Linked DNA regions of Homo sapiens: region 1 is linked to region 2. Evidence: fine-mapped expression QTL. A gene starts in region 2. The other region holds a variant in brackets. All regions are shown on one strand. Distances are between the middles of the regions. Region 1 has its middle 37 kb from the start of MAGED4B. Region 2 holds the start of TSPYL2 (TSPY like 2).

Evidence for each region. PIP is the estimated chance that this variant, and not a neighbour inherited with it, causes the effect.
Region 1: its variant is the best candidate, but not a certain one, in a credible set for the expression of TSPYL2 in whole blood (TOPMed, PIP 0.86).

The regions. Positions count from the first base shown.
Region 1 is chrX:52,101,595-52,110,291 of GRCh38, forward strand. No RefSeq gene overlaps it. Among named protein-coding and RNA genes, the nearest start is that of MAGED4B, 37 kb to the left of the region's middle. The variant T/C (reference allele first, on the strand shown) is at 3,866.
Region 2 is chrX:53,078,504-53,087,163 of GRCh38, forward strand. TSPYL2 (TSPY like 2) reads left to right here and starts at 3,864. Exons shown (of 7, transcript NM_022117.4): 1 at 3,864-4,802; 2 at 6,042-6,119; 3 at 6,252-6,363; 4 at 6,451-6,596; 5 at 6,724-6,818; 6 at 7,128-7,807. The coding sequence starts at 3,996. It overlaps GPR173 (G protein-coupled receptor 173), which reads left to right. Exons shown (of 2, transcript NM_018969.6): 2 at 1-2,112. RefSeq lists silencers at 3,729-3,838, 4,109-4,158, 4,189-4,238.

The DNA.
Region 1 (8,697 bases), 980 kb before region 2:
ATTTTGGCTTTTGTTGCCATTGCTTTTGGTGTTTTAGACATGAAGTCCTTGCCCATGCCTATGTCTTGAATGGTATTGCCTAGGTTTTCTTCTAGGGTTTTTATGGTTTTAGGTCTAACATATAAGTCTTTCATCCATCTTGAATTAATTTTTGTGTAAGGTGTAAGGAAGGGATCCAGTTTCAGCTTTCTACATATGGCTAGCCAGTTTTCCCAGCACCATTTAATAAATACGGAATCCTTTCCCCATTGCTTTTTTTTTTTCAGATTTGTCAAAGATCAGATGGTTGTAGATATGCAGCATTATTTCTGAGGACTCTATTCTGTTCCATTGATCTATAGATCTGTTTTGGTACCAGTACCATGCTGTTTTGGTTACTATAGCCTTGTAGTATAGTTTGAAGTCAGGTAGTGTGATGCCTCTGGCTGTGTTCTTTTGGCTTAGGATTGACTTGGCGATGGGGGCTTTTTTTGGTTCCATATGAACTTTAAAGTAGTTTTTTCCAATTCTGTGAAGAAAGTCCTTGGTAGCTTGATGGGGATGGCATTGAATCTATAAATTACCTTGGGCAGTATGGCCATTTTCACAGTATTGATTCTTCCTACCCATGAGCATGGAATGTTTTTCCATTTGTTTGTATCCTCTTTTATTTCCTTGAGCAGTGGTTTGTAGTTCTCTTTGAAGAGGTCCTTCACATCCCTTGTAAGTTGGACTCCTAGGTATTTTATTCTCTTTGAAGCAATTGTGAATGGGAGTTCACTCATGATTTGGCTCTCTGTTTGTCTGTTATTGGTGTATAAGAATGCTTGTGATTTTTGCACATTGATTTTGTATCCTGAGACCTTGCTGAATTTGCTTATCAGCTTAAGGAGATTTTTGGCTGAGACAATGGGATTTTCTAGATATACAATCATGTCATCTGCAAACAGGGACAATTTGACTTCCTCTTTTTCTATTTGAATACCTTTTATTTCCTTCTCCTGCTTAATTGCCCTGGCCAGCACTTCCAACACTATGCTGAATAGATGTGGTGAGAGAGGGCATTCCTGTCTTGGGCCAGTTTTCAAAGGGAATGCTTCCAGTCTTTGCCCATTCAGTATGATATTGGCTGTGAGTTTGTCATTGACAGCTCTTATTATTTTGAAATACGTCCCATCAATACCTAATTTATTGAGAGTTTTTAGCATGAAGGGCTGTTGAATTTTGTGAAAGGCCTTTTCTGCATCTATTGAGATAATCATGTGGTTTTTGTTGTTGGTTCTGTTTATATGCTGGATTACATTTATTGATTTGCGTAAGTTGAAACAGCCTTGCCTCCCAGGGATGAAGCCCACTTGATCATGGTGGATAAGCTTTTTGATGTGCTGCTGTATTAAGTTTGCCAGTATTTTGTTGAGGATTTTTCCATCAATGTTCATCAAGGATGTGGGTCTAAAATTATCTTTTTTGGTTGTGTCTCTGCCAGGCTTTGGTATCAGGATGATGCTGGCCTCATAAAATGAGTTAGGGAGGATTCCCTCTTTTTCTATTGATAGGAATAGTTTCAGAAGGAATGGTACCAGCTCCTCCTTGTACCTCTGGTAGAATTCGGCTGTGAATCCATCTGGTCCTGGACTTTTTTTGGTTGGTAAGCTATTGATTATTGCCACAATTTCAGAGCCTGTTATTGGTCTATTTGGAGATTCAATTTCTTCCTTGTTTAGTCTTCAGAGGGCGTATGTGTCCAGGAATTTATCCATTTCTTCTAGATTTTCTAGTTTATTTGGGTAGAGATGTTTGTAGTATTCTCTGATGGTAGTTTGTATTTCTGCGGGATCGGTGGTGATATCCCCTTTATCATTTTTTATTGCGTGTATTTGATTCTTCTCTCTTTTCTTCTTTATTAGTCTTGCTTGCGGTCTATCAATTTTGTTGATCCTTTCAGAAAACCAGCTCCTGGACTCATTAATTTTTTGAAGGGTTTTTTGTGTCTTTATGTCCTTCAGTTCTGCTCTGATCGTAGTTATTTCTTGCCTTCTACTAGCTTTTGAATGTGTTTGCTCTTGCTTTTCTAGTTCTTCTAATTGTGATGTTAGGGTGTCAATTTTGGATCTTTCCTGCTTTCTCTTGTGGGCATTTAGTGCTATAAATTTCCCTCTACAAACTGCTTTGAAAGTGTCCCAGAGATTCTGGTATATTATGTCTTTGTTCTCATTGGTTTCAAAGAACATCTTTATTTGTGCCTTCATTTCGTTATGCATCCAGTAGTCATTCAGGAGCAGGTTCTTCTGTTTCCATGTAGTTGAGTGGTTTTGAGTGAGTTTCTTAATCCTGAGTTCTAGTTTGACTTCACTGTGGTCTGAGAGACAGTTTGTTATAATTTCTATTCTTTTACATTTGCTGAGGAGTGCTTTACTTCCAACTATGTGGTCAATTTTGTAATAGGTGTGATGTAGTGCTGAAAAAAATGTATATACTGTTGATTTGGGGTGGAGAGTTCTGTAGATGTCTATTAGGTACACTTGGTGCAGAGCTGAGTTCAATTCCTGGATATCCTTGTTAACTTTCTGTCTCGTTGATCTGTCTAATGTTGACAGTGGGGTGTTAAAGTCTCCCATTATTAATGTGTGGGAGTCTAAGTCTCTTTGTAGGTCTCTAAGAACTTGCTTTATGAATCTGGGTGCTCTTGTATTGGGTGCATATATATTTAGGATAGTTAGCTCTTCTTGTTGAATTGATCCGTTTACCATTATGTAATGGCCTTCTTTGTCTCTTTTGATCTTTGTTGGTTTAAAGTCTGTTTTATCAGAGACTAGGATTGCAACCCCTGCCTTTTTTTGTTTTCCATTTGCTTGGTAGATCTTCCTCCATCCCTTTATTTTGAGCCTATGTGTGTCTCTGCACGTGAGATGGGTTTCCTGAATACAGCACACTGATGGGTCCTGACTCTTTATCCAATTTGCCAGTCTGTGTCTTTTAATTGGAGCGTTTAGTCCATTGACTTTTAAAGTTAATATTGTCATGTGTGCATTTGGTCCTGTCATTATGATGTTAGCTGGTTATTTTGCTCGTTAGTTGATGCAGTTTCTTCCTAGCCTTGATAGTCTTTACAATTTGGCATGTTTTTGCAGTGGCTGGTACCGGTTGTTCCTTTCCATGTTTAGTGCTTCCTTCAGGAGCTCTTGTAGGGCAGGCCTGGTGGTGATAAAATCTCTCAGCATTTGCTTGTCTGTAAAGGATTTTATTTCTCCTTCACTTATGAAGCTTAGTTTGGCTGAATATGAAATTCTGGGTTGAAAATTCTTTTCTTTAAGAATCTTGAATATTGGCCCCACTCTCTTCTGGCTTGTAGAGTTTCTGCTGAGAGATCCGCTGTTAGTCTGATGGGCTTCCCTTTGTGGGTAACCCGACCTTTCTCTCTGGCTGCCCTTAACATTTTTTTCCTTCATTTCAACTTTGGTGAATCTGACAATTATGTGTCTTTGAGTTGCTCTTCTCGAGGAGTATCTTTGTGGCGTTCTCTGTATTTCCTGAATCTGAATGTTGGCCTGCCTTTCTAGATTGGGGAAGTTCTCCTGGATAATATCCTGCAGAGTGTTTTCCAACTTGGTTCCATTCTCCCTGTCACTTTCAGGTACACCAATCAGACGTAGATTTGGTCTTTTCACATAATCCCATATTTCTTGGAGGCTTTGTTCATTTCTTTTTATTCTGTTTTCTCTGAACTTCCCTTCACACTTCATTTCATTCATTTCGTCTTCCATCACTGATACCCTTTCTTCCAGGTGATCGCATCGGCTCCTGAGGCTTGTGAGTTCTTCACATAATTCTGGAGCCTTGGCTTTCAGCTCCATCAGCTCCTTTAAGGACTTCTCTGCATAGGTTA[T/C]TCTAAGTATCCATTCGTCTAATTTTTTTTTCAAAGTTTTTAACTTCTATGCCATTGGTTTGAATTTCCTCCTTTAGCTCGGAGTAGCTTGATTATCTGAAGTCTTCTTCTCTCAACTCGTCAAAGTCATTCCCCATCCAGCTTTTTTCCATTGCTGGTGAGGAGCTGAGTTCCTTTGGAGGAGGAGAGGTGCTCTGCTTTTTAGAGTTTCCAGTTTTTCTGCTCTGTTTTTTCCCCATTTTTGTGGTTTTATCTACTTTTGGTCTTTGGTGATGGTGACATACAGGTGGGTTTTTGGTGCGGATGTCCTTTGTGTTTGTTAGTTTTCCTTCTAACAGACAGAACCCTCAGCTGCAGGTCTGTTGGAGTTTGCTGGAGGTCCACTCCAGACCCTGTTTGCCTGGGTATCAGCAGTGGTGGCTGCAGAACAGCGGTGGCTGTACAACAGTGGATATTGGTGAACTGCAAATGCTGCTGCCTGATTGTTCCTCTGGAAGTTTTTTCTCAGAGGAGTACCCAGCCGTGTGAGGTGTCAGTTTGCCCCTACTGGTGGGTGCCTCCCAGTTAGGCTGCTTGGGGGTCAGGGGTCAGGGACCCACTTGAGGAGGCAGTCTGCCTGTTCTCAGATCTCCAGCTGCATGCTGGGCAAACCATTCCTCTCTTCAAAGCTGTCAGACAGGGACATTTAAGTTTGCAGAGGTTACTGCTGTCTTTTTGTTTATCTATGCCCTGCCCCCAGAGGTGGAGCCTACAGAGGCAGGAAGGCCTCCTGGAGCTGTGGTGGGCTCCACCCAGTTTGAGCTTCCAGGCTGCTTTGTTTACCTAATCAAGCCTGGGCAATGGCAGGCGCCCATCCTCCAGCCTCACTGCCACCTTGGAGTTTGATCTCAGAACACTGTGCTAGCAATCAGCGAGACTCCGTGGGCATAGGACCCTCCGAGCCATGTGCGGGATATAATCTCCTGGTGTGCCCTTTTATAAGCCTGTTGGAAAAGCGCAGTATTAGGGTGGAAGTGACCCGATTTTCCAGGTGCTGTCTGTCACCCCTTTCTTTGAGTAGGAAAGGGACCTCCCTGACCCCTTGTGCTTCACGAGTGAGGCAATGCCTCGCCCTGCTTCGGCTCACGCATGGTGTGCTGCACCCACTGTCCTGCTCCCACTGTCTGGCACTCCCTAGTGAGATGAACCCGGTACCTCAGATGGAAATGCAGAAATCACCCGTCTTATGTGTCGCTCATGCTGGGAGCTGTAGACCGGAGCTTTTCCTATTCGGCCATCTTGGCTCCACCCAACCAATACAATCTTCTCTTTTAGTTATTTTTAACTGCACATTACTTTTATTTATTCTCACTCTGTCACCCAGACTGAGTGCAGTGGCATGATCATGGCTTACTGCAGCCTTGACCTCCCAGGCTTAAGTGATCCTCCCACCTCAGCCTCCCATGTATCTGAGACTACGGGTGCATGCCACTACATGCAGTTAATTTTTATTTTATTTTATTTTATTTTTTGTAGAGACAAGTTCTCTCTATGTTGCCCAGGCTGGTCTTGAACTTCCAGACTCAAGCTGTCCTCCTGCCTTGGCCTTCCAATGTGCTGGGATTACAGACAAGAGCCGTGACACCTGGCATGTATAATAAACTTTCGTTGACTGTAGTTATCCTGTTGTGATATCAAATACCAGATCTTATCTACTCTATTTTTTGGTACCCATTAACCATTCACACTCCCCCTACCCCCACTACCCTTCCCAGACTGTGGTAAACATTGTTCTACTCTCTATCTCCATGAGTTCAAGTGTTTTAATTTTTAGCTCCCATAAATATGTGAAGCTGCCTTTCTGTTTCAGGCTTATTTCACATAATATAATGTCCTTCAGTTTCATCCATGTTGTTGCAAATGACAGGATCTCATTCTTTTTTATGACTGAATAGTACTCCACTGTGTATATGTACTACATTTTCTTTACCCATCCATCTATTGATGGATACATAGGTTGCATCCAAATCTTGGCTATTGTAAGTAGGGCTGCAATAAACATGGGGATGCAGATATGTCTTCAATATGCTGATGTCCTTTCTTTGGGGCATATACCCAGCAGTGGGATTGCTGGGTTGTATGGTAGCTCTATTTTTAGTTGTCTGAGGAACCTCCAAACTGTTCTCCATAGTGGTTGTACTAATGTACCTTACCACCAACAGTGTATTAAGGTTCTGGTGCTTTATTCAGTTCATTTGGTGAATTAATGTTTTCTTGGATGTTCTTGATGCTTGTGGATGTTCCTCAGTGTCTGAGCATTGAAGAGTTAGGTATTTATTGTAGTCTTCACAGTCTGGGCTTGGTACCCATCCTTCCTGGGTAGGCTTTCCAGGTATTCAAAGGGATTTAGGTGTTGTTCTAAACCTTTGGTCACTGCAGCTTTGTCTCTATTAGGGGACACCCTAAGTCTAGTAATGTTATGGCTCTTGTAGACTCTGAGGTACTGCCTTGGTGGTCTTGGGTAAGATCATGGAGGAATTACCTGGATTACCTCACAGAGGTTCTTGTTTTCTTTCCTTACTTTACCCCAAACCAATTGAGTCTCTGTGCTGAGCTGCCTGGAGCTGGGTGTGGGATGACACAAGTACCTCTATGGTACTCACCACTGGGACTGTGCTGGGTCAGACCCAAAGTCAGCATGCCACTTGGTCTTGCCCAATACCACAGTGACCACTGCCTGGCTACTGCCTATGTTCACTTAAAGCCAAAATGCTCTACAGTCAATAGGTGGTGAAGCCAGTCAGTCTTGTGTTCTTCCCTTAAGGGCAGCAAGTTCTCCCTTGCCCTGGGTGGGTCAAAAGTTGCTCTTCTGGACCTAGGACCTGGAGTTCAGAACCTTAGGAATCTACCTGGTGCTCTGTTAAACTGTGGCTGAGCCGGCAAGAAGCTGCAAGACAAAGTCCTTCTCACACTTGCCTCCCCTATCCTCAAGTAGAGGAGTTTCTCCCCATAGCCACCACCACCCCAGGCCCACAGCAAGCACTGGCTGGTTACCACTGATGATTATGCAGAGCCCAAGAGCTTTTTTGTTAGCAGGTGATAGATCCTGCCAGGAGTTGGTCCTTCCCTTCAAGGTAGCATGTTCCCTTCTAGTCCACAGTGTGTTAAGAAATGTCATCTGTGAGCTGGGGCTTGTAATGGGAGCCTTGGGACTATTCCTGTTGCCTTATCCTACTGTGGCTGGGCTGGTACCCAATTGCAAGACACAGTCCTCTTCACTCCCCACTCTCCTCTCGTCTCTTCAAGGTGAAGGTAGGAGTCTCTCCTGGAGCTGCAAGTTGTGATGCCTGGGTTTGAGGGAAGGGTGACATGAGCACTCCCTAGGCTGCCCTAGCTGGTGCATCACTACATTGTCTACACTCCAAGTCTACCTGGCTTTGAGCCCAGCATAGTACCAGGACTCACGTAGGAATTGGAGTCCTTGTGGCTGAGACTGTCTTTCAAGTTTATTTAGGGCCCCATAGCACTTTAGCCTGCAGTGGCAGGGCTTGCTGGAACTCAGGTGTCGACTGCTGGGATGGACAATTCATCTCTGACTATGGCTGGTCTAAATGCTCCCTCCGTGGGTGCTGGTTGAGTTCTGCCCTGTGTTGCTTTTGACTATGGTAGGGCAGCACTGAGTTTGAATGTGTAGTCCCAAAATTTCAGCACTTTCCTTTCCCTAAGTACAGAGATTCTCTCTGTTCCATGTAGCCACTGCTGGGGGATACGAGTGGGGTGGTGTAGGCTATTTAAGAAAGACTGTGTTTCCTACCCTCTTCATTGCCTTTTTCCTTAATATGGTGTTAAAGCAAGTACTGTGACCACTCCCTTGATATTTGGTTCTTTTGAAGGTGCTTTATTTATGTTCAATATGGTGTTCCTGTGTGGTAGGGGGAAACTTGCTGTAGCCTTCTATTTAGTCATCTTGCCCTGCCTCCCTGTCCTAGTATTCGTTGTTTTGAGAAGCCTACATTGATACTTGTTATCACTTGGCATTTTGATCATATTCATACTAACAGATGTGAAGTGATATCTCACTGTGGTTTTAATTTGCATTCCCCTGATGATTAATTATGTTAAGCACCTTTTCATCTACCTGGGAGACCCTAAGTAGCCAAAGACATAATAAGAAAAGACAACAGATCTGGAGGCATCACACTGCCTAATTTCCAAGTATATTATAAAGATATAGTAATCAATAGAGAATTGTACTGGCATAAAAACAGATACATCAACCAACTGAACAAAATAGATAGTTCACAAATATATCCACACGTATATGGTCAACTAATCTTCAAAAAAAGCAATAAGAATACACAATACAGAAAGGATATTCCCTCCAAATCTCATGTTGAAATGTGATTTTGAATGTTGGAGGTTGGGCCTAGTGGGAGGTATTGGACCATGGGGGCAGATTTCTCATGAATGGCTTAGTGCCATCCCCTTGGTGATGAGTAGATTCTAGCTCTATTTATGGAAGATCTGTTTTTTTAAAAACAGTATGGAATCACCCCCTTGTCTCTCTTGGTCCTTCTCTTGCCATGTGATATGCTTGCCCCTGCTTTGCCTTCTGCTGTGAGTAAAAGTTCTCTGAGGCCTCACCAGAAGGGAAGGAGATGCTGGTGTCACACTTTTGTACAGTCTGCAGAACTGTGAGCCAATTAAAAAACCTCTTTTCTTTATAAATTACCCAGCCTCAGGTATTTCTTTATAACAATGCAAAAATGGGCTAACACAGGGTGTCTCTATTTTATTCCATTGGTCTATATTTTTGTCTTTATGCCAGTATCATACTGTTTTGGTTCTTGTAG
Region 2 (8,660 bases):
TAAGATGTGAGCTGAACTCCTCGAACTGAAGAGACCCACACTTGGTCACATTCTCTCACGCTGCCTTCAGGATCCCCAGCCCCCAACTCTTCTTCCTGAGGATGGAAATCCACTCCAGCCCCACTAGGACTGATGTGGGTGCCATACAGGCAGGAGCAGCCCACCAGGAAAGTGTAAGGAGGGAGCTGAACTCCCCAGAGTAGCTGGACCACAGAGACTTGGGTCAGAGCTGATTTCAACCCCAGAATTGTCTCTCGGGTTCACCCTACTCTTCTGAAGATGAAAATTTGTTTGGGGCCTTGGTAACCGATAGCGGTACAAACTCCAAGGCACTGTGGACTTGAGTCCATTCCTATCTGACCTCTTTTTGTCCCCCTCAAGCCTCAGGGGCCTCAAGCCCCTCCTTAGTAGCCCTTGGCTGACTGGGCCCTGAGCCCCAAGCATCCTTCTTTCCCAACAACCCTCCTTCCCCATCCTTCCCCCACCCTTACCTACACCCAAAGTGGAGCACACTGCAGTCAGATTCTCCAGGAGGGAGATCCAAGCCTCCTCCCAGGGGTGGAGTCCACTCTGGGCTTACTTTGAGGCCTGTTCTGTGGATTGGTGAGCCAAGCTGGCACTCCTTGCCCTGGTCTTACCCAGGCTCTCTGTCCCCCTCTCACTTCCTGTGGGGCCGGAATCTGTATTTATCCATCCCCCTTTCCCTTCTTTATAGAAGTCCCTGTCCTAAACTCCCTCCCTAGCCCAAGAGAGCCCCAGAACTGGGGAAGCCTGACCCATACAGAATGGGGAGGGCACTCTAGGCAGGAGAGACATTAATGAGCCTGGCTGCAGAGTGGCCCTGGAAAGGCAGGCCAGAGTGGCTGAGAGGCTGGGAGTAGGGGAGCCTGTTCTCTCAGCGATAGTGATGGGGGTGCCTTTCCGAGGGGGTGGGGTGGGAAGACCAAGGGGGTGGGGGGTAGATAGGGTACATTTAGGAGGGTTTTCCTCCATTTCTTTTTTCTAACTGCCTGGATTCACCATTGGATTTTGTAAATGGAAAAACTGAAATGAACAATGCTATACTGGATGTTTTCTCTTTCTGACTGTGTGTGTGTGTGTGCGTGCGTGCGTGCATGTGCCCTGTCTGACCACATGTGGAGAGACATGATTGAGTGATAGTGTGTGTCTGTGTGACTTTGTGTGGGGAGGCACTCCTGAAGAAAACTTGCCCGGTGCACACACGTAAAATGCCTGTATATGGGGACAGATACAGCACGTGCATGCATACACACACACACACACACACCACAGTTGAGAGGAGACAAACTAGAGTATGTGCCCGTGGTAGGAAGTCGAGTGGTCAAGAGATGGATCTTGGAAACTACATAGGTCGGTAGCAAGAGGGTAGACTCCCATCTCACAAGATGGGCCTCCCTTGGCCCAGGCCCTGAGCACGGGAGGGCTGGGGCCGCCAGGGAACTTGAAAACCTCATCTCCTCACAAAGCCTGTAGCCCCATCTCAACCCCGTCTCAGTCTCCTTCCCAAACTCAAACAAGGTGTTCCTAAAATTGGACCACCATGGAGAATGGGGACTGGGAATTGAGGATCAAATGTGAGGGAAACTGATGAGGTTAGGAAATGCCCCCCACAAAGTAATGGCTTCTGGAGGGACTGCTCAGTCTGGGATGGGAGCCCTTCCTAGGGGCCACTGTATGCAGCTGGGACTTTGGTCAGCTTTGACCAAATTTAGAGGGAGGGATGTCATGGGGAAAAAAAACCCAAGCCCAGGAGTCTACCCAGCCAGCCTGCTCCCTAGACAGTTAATTTACTATCTGGTTATTCTCTCAGGTGCACAGAATTGAGTTGACCATACTCCTCAGTTCTTGGCACACTATATCATCATTGGTCCATGTGAGGCCCTTTTATTTTTTTTTCTTCAGTTTTGTCCCCTTCATCACCCATTCCTGATCCCATCCTCCCCGCCCCCTACACAGGCACCCACTCTCGTGTATTTAACGTACGTCCTTCCAATCCACCGTTCATGTGTTTATTTACATATATGTGTATCTGTGAAAAATGTATGGTATTGCTGTGTGTTTTAATTTACATAAACAGTATTGTACTATAAATCTTGTTGTTTCTTTTTTCACTCAACATTCTGTCTTTGAGAGATCCAGCCATGTTGCCGTATATAGATCTAATTCATTCTAGTGGTCCATCTAAAACATATATCACATTTTTCTTATCCACTCCCCTGATGATGGATCCCTAGGTCTCCTCTCTGCTCCGCGACAAGGCTGCAATGGGCAGTTACCTACACCTCTCTTGAGGGATGCCTAATTTAGGGGAGAGAAAACTGAAGCTCAGAGAGGGGCAGTGATTTGGTTAAGGTTACAAAATGAGGGGCACACCCATGATGTGAATCCCAGCACCAAAGCCAGCCCTCCACCACCATGCCTCACAAAAGACCATCCATCTCTGGTTTAAAAAGAAAAATCTTAAAATACAGCATACACTGGGGAAAGGGAGAGGAAAGGATGGAAAGGGGGAGAAATGAAGAGACAGAAAGTGCTAGAAAATTCTAGCAGATGAGCTGAATCACAATCATTTTTATGACGCAGAGGAAGTTACTTTTTTGTGTGTGTGATTATTATTTGTAGAGCCATTTTGCGGAGATGGAAAACGCCACGTCAAAACCTGGCCCCCAAACCAAACACCCTGGGTGCCTAAATTGCAGGCGCAGGCGGTAGGGCAGCCCGAGCCCCCGAGGAGCTACAGCAGAGTTCACCCAGGGGGCAAACGTGGGGGGTGGGGGAAGGGGCAGAAGTGGAAGGTAGGAAAAGAGGCAGAAGCGGGGGGGCGGGGGGCAGGGGTTGTGTGAGGGAAGGGGCAGAAGTTGGGGGATAGGGGAAGGGCAGAAGCGGAGGGCGGGAGGGTGAGGGAAGGGGCAGAAGTGGGGTTGGGGGGTGAAGGAAGGGGCAGAAGTTGGGGGATAGGGGAAGGGGCAGAAGTGGGGGTGAGGGAAGAGACAGTTGGGGGATGGGGGTCAGAAGCAGGGAATGCGGGAAGGGGCAGAAGGGGGGGTGAGGGAAGGGGCAGAAGCGGGGGAGGAAGGGGCAGAAGCGGGGGGTGAAGGGGCAGAAGCGGGGGTGGGGTGGGGGAAGGGGCCGAAGCGGGGGATGGGGGAAGGGGCAGAAACGGGGGGTGGGGGAAGGGACAGAAACGGGGAGTGGAGGAAGGGGCAGAAGCGGGGATGGAAAAAGGGGCAGCAGTGGGGGATGGGAGAAGGGGCAGAAGCGGGGGTGGGAGAAGGGGCAGGAGCTGGGATGGGGGAAGGGGCAGGACCCGGGATGGGGGAAGGGGCAGAAGCGGGGGTGGGGGAAGGAGCTGAAGGAAATGGGGGAAGGGGCAGATTTTAAAAGTGCGTAGTTGCTGAGGGGAGGGGGGCGGGGGGAACGATAACGAGGCTCTTCCAATTTCATGTGAGCACATCCTGCTCAGCGCCTGCGTTTGTTTTTCGTCTCGTTTTTTGGTCTTCAGAACCACTGGTACTTTTCCCATTGGATAAAACGCTGAGAGGGTGAGGGAGAGGGGCTTCTTCCCCAGCTTTCCTCGCAGCCAATCGCCCTGCAGTTTCCCTCCCGTCGCTGAGGGAGTCAGCCCGTTGATTGGCGGGCCCGAGGGGAGCCAATCGGAAACTGATGATGTGTGGTGTTGGCAAGCGGATTGCGTGAGAGCGGGCAGGGGTCGCGGGAGCGCGATCGCCGCCGCGGCGGCCGGCAGCCAATGGCCAGGCCGAGCGGACCCCTGCGTCAGGAGTGGGCGGGGCTTCGGCGATTGGCGCGGAGGGAGTAGAGCGGGCGCTGTGGGAGGGAACGCCAGAGCGAGGTGGTGAGGAGAGCTGGTTGCGTGAGTCTCCTCAGCTCTGCTTACCGGTGCGACTAGCGGCAGCGACGCGGCTAAAAGCGAAGGGGCGAGTGCGAGTCCCCTGAGCTGTACGAACGCGGTCGCCATGGACCGCCCAGATGAGGGGCCTCCGGCCAAGACCCGCCGCCTGAGCAGCTCCGAGTCTCCACAGCGCGACCCGCCCCCGCCGCCGCCGCCGCCGCCGCTCCTCCGACTGCCGCTGCCTCCACCCCAGCAGCGCCCGAGGCTCCAGGAGGAAACGGAGGCGGCACAGGTGCTGGCCGATATGAGGGGGGTGGGACTGGGCCCCGCGCTGCCCCCGCCGCCTCCCTATGTCATTCTCGAGGAGGGGGGGATCCGCGCATACTTCACGCTCGGTGCTGAGTGTCCCGGCTGGGATTCTACCATCGAGTCGGGGTATGGGGAGGCGCCCCCGCCCACGGAGAGCCTGGAAGCACTCCCCACTCCTGAGGCCTCGGGGGGGAGCCTGGAAATCGATTTTCAGGTTGTACAGTCGAGCAGTTTTGGTGGAGAGGGGGCCCTAGAAACCTGTAGCGCAGTGGGGTGGGCGCCCCAGAGGTTAGTTGACCCGAAGAGCAAGGAAGAGGCGATCATCATAGTGGAGGATGAGGATGAGGATGAGCGGGAGAGTATGAGGAGCAGCAGGAGGCGGCGGCGGCGGCGGAGGAGGAAGCAGAGGAAGGTGAAGAGGGAAAGCAGAGAGAGAAATGCCGAGAGGATGGAGAGCATCCTGCAGGCACTGGAGGATATTCAGCTGGATCTGGAGGCAGTGAACATCAAGGCAGGCAAAGCCTTCCTGCGTCTCAAGCGCAAGTTCATCCAGATGCGAAGACCCTTCCTGGAGCGCAGAGACCTCATCATCCAGCATATCCCAGGCTTCTGGGTCAAAGCAGTATCCTTCTAATCGATACTCCGTAGGTCAGAAGCCCGTGACAGGAAAGGGGAAGGTGGGGGAGGGACAGAAAAGGTAAAGCGGGTGGAGGAGAGCCAGAGGTGGGCATGATCCCCCTATCGGAAGACGGACTAGACTGGGTGGAAGAGGGATGGAAGGAGGAGGGCAAAACAGCAGAGAAGCTGGACTGGAGATGATGAAGGGTGGTGGAGGGGGGGCGGACATAAAAACTGGACCACAGATGGGAAAGGGGGAAGAGGAGGAACATAGCATTAAAAAAAGGATCACAGATGATAAAAAGGGGGAGGGTAGTAAAGGGGCACACAGCAAAAAAATTGGACCAGAGATGGTGAAAGGAGGAGGGGAGGGGCACGTAGAAGATGAACTGACTCAGAGACCTTGAAGAGGGAGGGGAATGGCACACAGCAGAGAAACTGCCCAGAAAGGGTGCTTGAGCCATACAAGGCTCTGTAAACCTAGATTTTTGCTTAAGATACTAGGAGACCCCAATCCTGGCTGGAGTGCCTTGCATTGGAGGGAGGGGGGCTGGAGCCCCTGAAAGATCAAGAGAGGGAGTGTCTAGGTATAGAGAAAAAGGAGTTAAATGAAGGAAAGGGGAGAGTAGACACATACACATACATGTAACATGTTAGGAACATGAGTCGAACATCCTAATAGAATTATGTGGATACAGACCCTTAGCCCTCATATGAAACAGCACATGGTAAGAGGCCCTTAGCACCCAGGCATACAATATCATTTAGACATAGGACCTCAGCTCCTAGACACAGTATTATGTGACCACAGGTCCTCAGCATGTAGACACATGGCATAACTTGACCACAAGCCATCAGAGCCATTCACACATCATGTGGACATGGACCTTCAACACCCATACATACAATAACGTGACCACAGGCCCTCAGCAATCAGTTACAGCATCACTTGGACATGGCCCTTAAGCCCCCAGACGTGCATTTTGTGAACACAAGCTTTCAGCACCCAGTGACATATACCACATGCACATGGATTGTCGACACCCTGTAGGGCCACCTAACATAGAGGTTTATCATGGGAATAAGTATGGGTTATGTCCCATGACTCACTTGCTTTATACACACCACATAAGCACAGAAGGAATCCTCATGCTCCAGCCTCTCTTACTGTGCCCTTCCTGGCCTTCCCTCCCTCCCTTTCACGGAATAGTCAATCCTTGACCTAAACTGCTCCACTCATCAGTTCCTCAACCACCCCAGAATTTCAATTTTGATCAACCGACGTGATGAAGACATTTTCCGCTACTTGACCAATCTGCAGGTCAGGCCAGAGAGACATTTTTTAGTAGGATCGGGCACGAATCTGGTTCTTGGAGGTGACGGGAGGTGGGTGGGAAGGGCCGTGGTGTGTTGGGGGGGGGACAGATTCCACCATCACCCCCACCTGGAGCAGGTACAGGATCTCAGACATATCTCCATGGGCTACAAAATGAAGCTGTACTTCCAGACTAACCCCTACTTCACAAACATGGTGATTGTCAAGGAGTTCCAGCGCAACCGCTCAGGTAAGTGGCAGTACCAGAGTAAATCCATGTTCCCCCCCTCAATCTGTCCTTGTTTTGTCCCATCTCCATAGCCTTCTCTCTCCCTAGGCCGGCTGGTGTCTCACTCAACCCCAATCCGCTGGCACCGGGGCCAGGAACCCCAGGCCCGTCGTCACGGGAACCAGGATGCGAGCCACAGCTTTTTCAGCTGGTTCTCAAACCATAGCCTCCCAGAGGCTGACAGGATTGCTGAGGTGGGGCCCTTCCTGGCATCACCAGAGAAGGCCTTGCTAGGCTTGTTCCTGGGTGCGTGGGGAATTAAGAGGAGGATCTGGAGCTTGTACTAATGGCTGTCTTATTCCTTCTCCCCTTTTTCAACAGATTATCAAGAATGATCTGTGGGTTAACCCTCTACGCTACTACCTGAGAGAAAGGGGCTCCAGGATAAAGAGAAAGAAGCAAGAAATGAAGAAACGGTAATGGGAGTTTGGTCGCTGAGAGGTGGTTTGTTGGGGATGGGGAAAAGACTAGTGTAACACAGGATTTATGGAGCCAAAAAGGGACCTTTGAGATAATCCCAGTGGAATATGTTTTACAAGTGGGAAATCATGCCCAGAAATGGCTTGAGGTTACACAGTCAGGGGCAGAAGTGGGACTTTACCCACCCTAGCCCCATTCCTGGGATCCCTTATAGCCTACTGCTTCCCCAGTTACTTCCCACCTTTGAGTGCTATGAGTACACCACCTCCCACCAACCCTATACTCAGCCACAGCCTTCCTTACAGTAAAACCAGGGGCAGATGTGAGGTGGTGATCATGGAAGACGCCCCTGACTATTATGCAGTGGAAGACATTTTCAGCGAGATCTCAGACATTGATGAGACAATTCATGACATCAAGATCTCTGACTTCATGGAGACCACCGACTACTTCGAGACCACTGACAATGAGATAACTGACATCAATGAGAACATCTGCGACAGCGAGAATCCTGACCACAATGAGGTCCCCAACAACGAGACCACTGATAACAACGAGAGTGCTGATGACCACGAAACCACTGACAACAATGAGAGTGCAGATGACAACAACGAGAATCCTGAAGACAATAACAAGAACACTGATGACAACGAAGAGAACCCTAACAACAACGAGAACACTTACGGCAACAACTTCTTCAAAGGTGGCTTCTGGGGCAGCCATGGCAACAACCAGGACAGCAGCGACAGTGACAATGAAGCAGATGAGGCCAGTGATGATGAAGATAATGATGGCAACGAAGGTGACAATGAGGGCAGTGATGATGATGGCAATGAAGGTGACAATGAAGGCAGCGATGATGACGACAGAGACATTGAGTACTATGAGAAAGTTATTGAAGACTTTGACAAGGATCAGGCTGACTACGAGGACGTGATAGAGATCATCTCAGACGAATCAGTGGAAGAAGAGGGCATTGAGGAAGGTGAGCTAATCCCCCCCCACCCTTGTCTTCCCTCTTTTCTTTTCTCAGAGCAAGCCTGGCCAAGGACAGGGTATCAAGGCATGAACACAATCTGCTTTTATGGAGGAAAGAAAAAGCATTCTGAGCAACTTTTTAAACAAAGGAAGTCCAGTGAACATTTAACTTAAAAATGTAACAAAACCCCAAAAAATCATTTTAGTTCTAGGTGATGGATAGATGGTTGTAACAGCAGAAGATGAAGAGTACACAGAGATAGGAGACAGTGGGTGGAAAACTGAAAAGGACACTTCACATCGAGGTGGGGGAGTGGCAAAACACAGTGCATTTCAGCACAGTCTGTACCCGGCCTTGGCCTTTGGCGCATTTCCAGGCTTGTGTTGGGAGCAGAGCATGAAGTGAACAGTGTGCTCTCTGAGTCCAGAAAAGGGTGCAGCCAGTTCTACCTCAAGAATCGGGGTGGGGGGGGTGGCGGGGGAAGAGCTAGAGGAAAAAGGTGACATTTGAACTGGAGGATGCATTCACACTGAGGAGCTTTATGGAGCATTCTCCGTGGAGTGGATCATCTGAACAAGGACCTGGAAGGGTGAAAATGCATCGTAGGTTGGGCAGGGTTTCCAAAATTATGTCCTGAGGATCACTCACCAGATCTGAAAGCTGCTTCCCACAAAAGGTTTCAGTGGTCGTATATGTTGGACAAGTACTGCATATAGTAATACCCTCTTGTAGAGTCACATTAGCACCTTAAAGGCTCTGAGAATAACACGAGAATTATAAAGGTGCTGAGAAGTACTCAGATGGGAGGTGGAAGGGGCAGGAAAATCAACTACTCTTCGGGTTTTTTTGGCTATGGGGT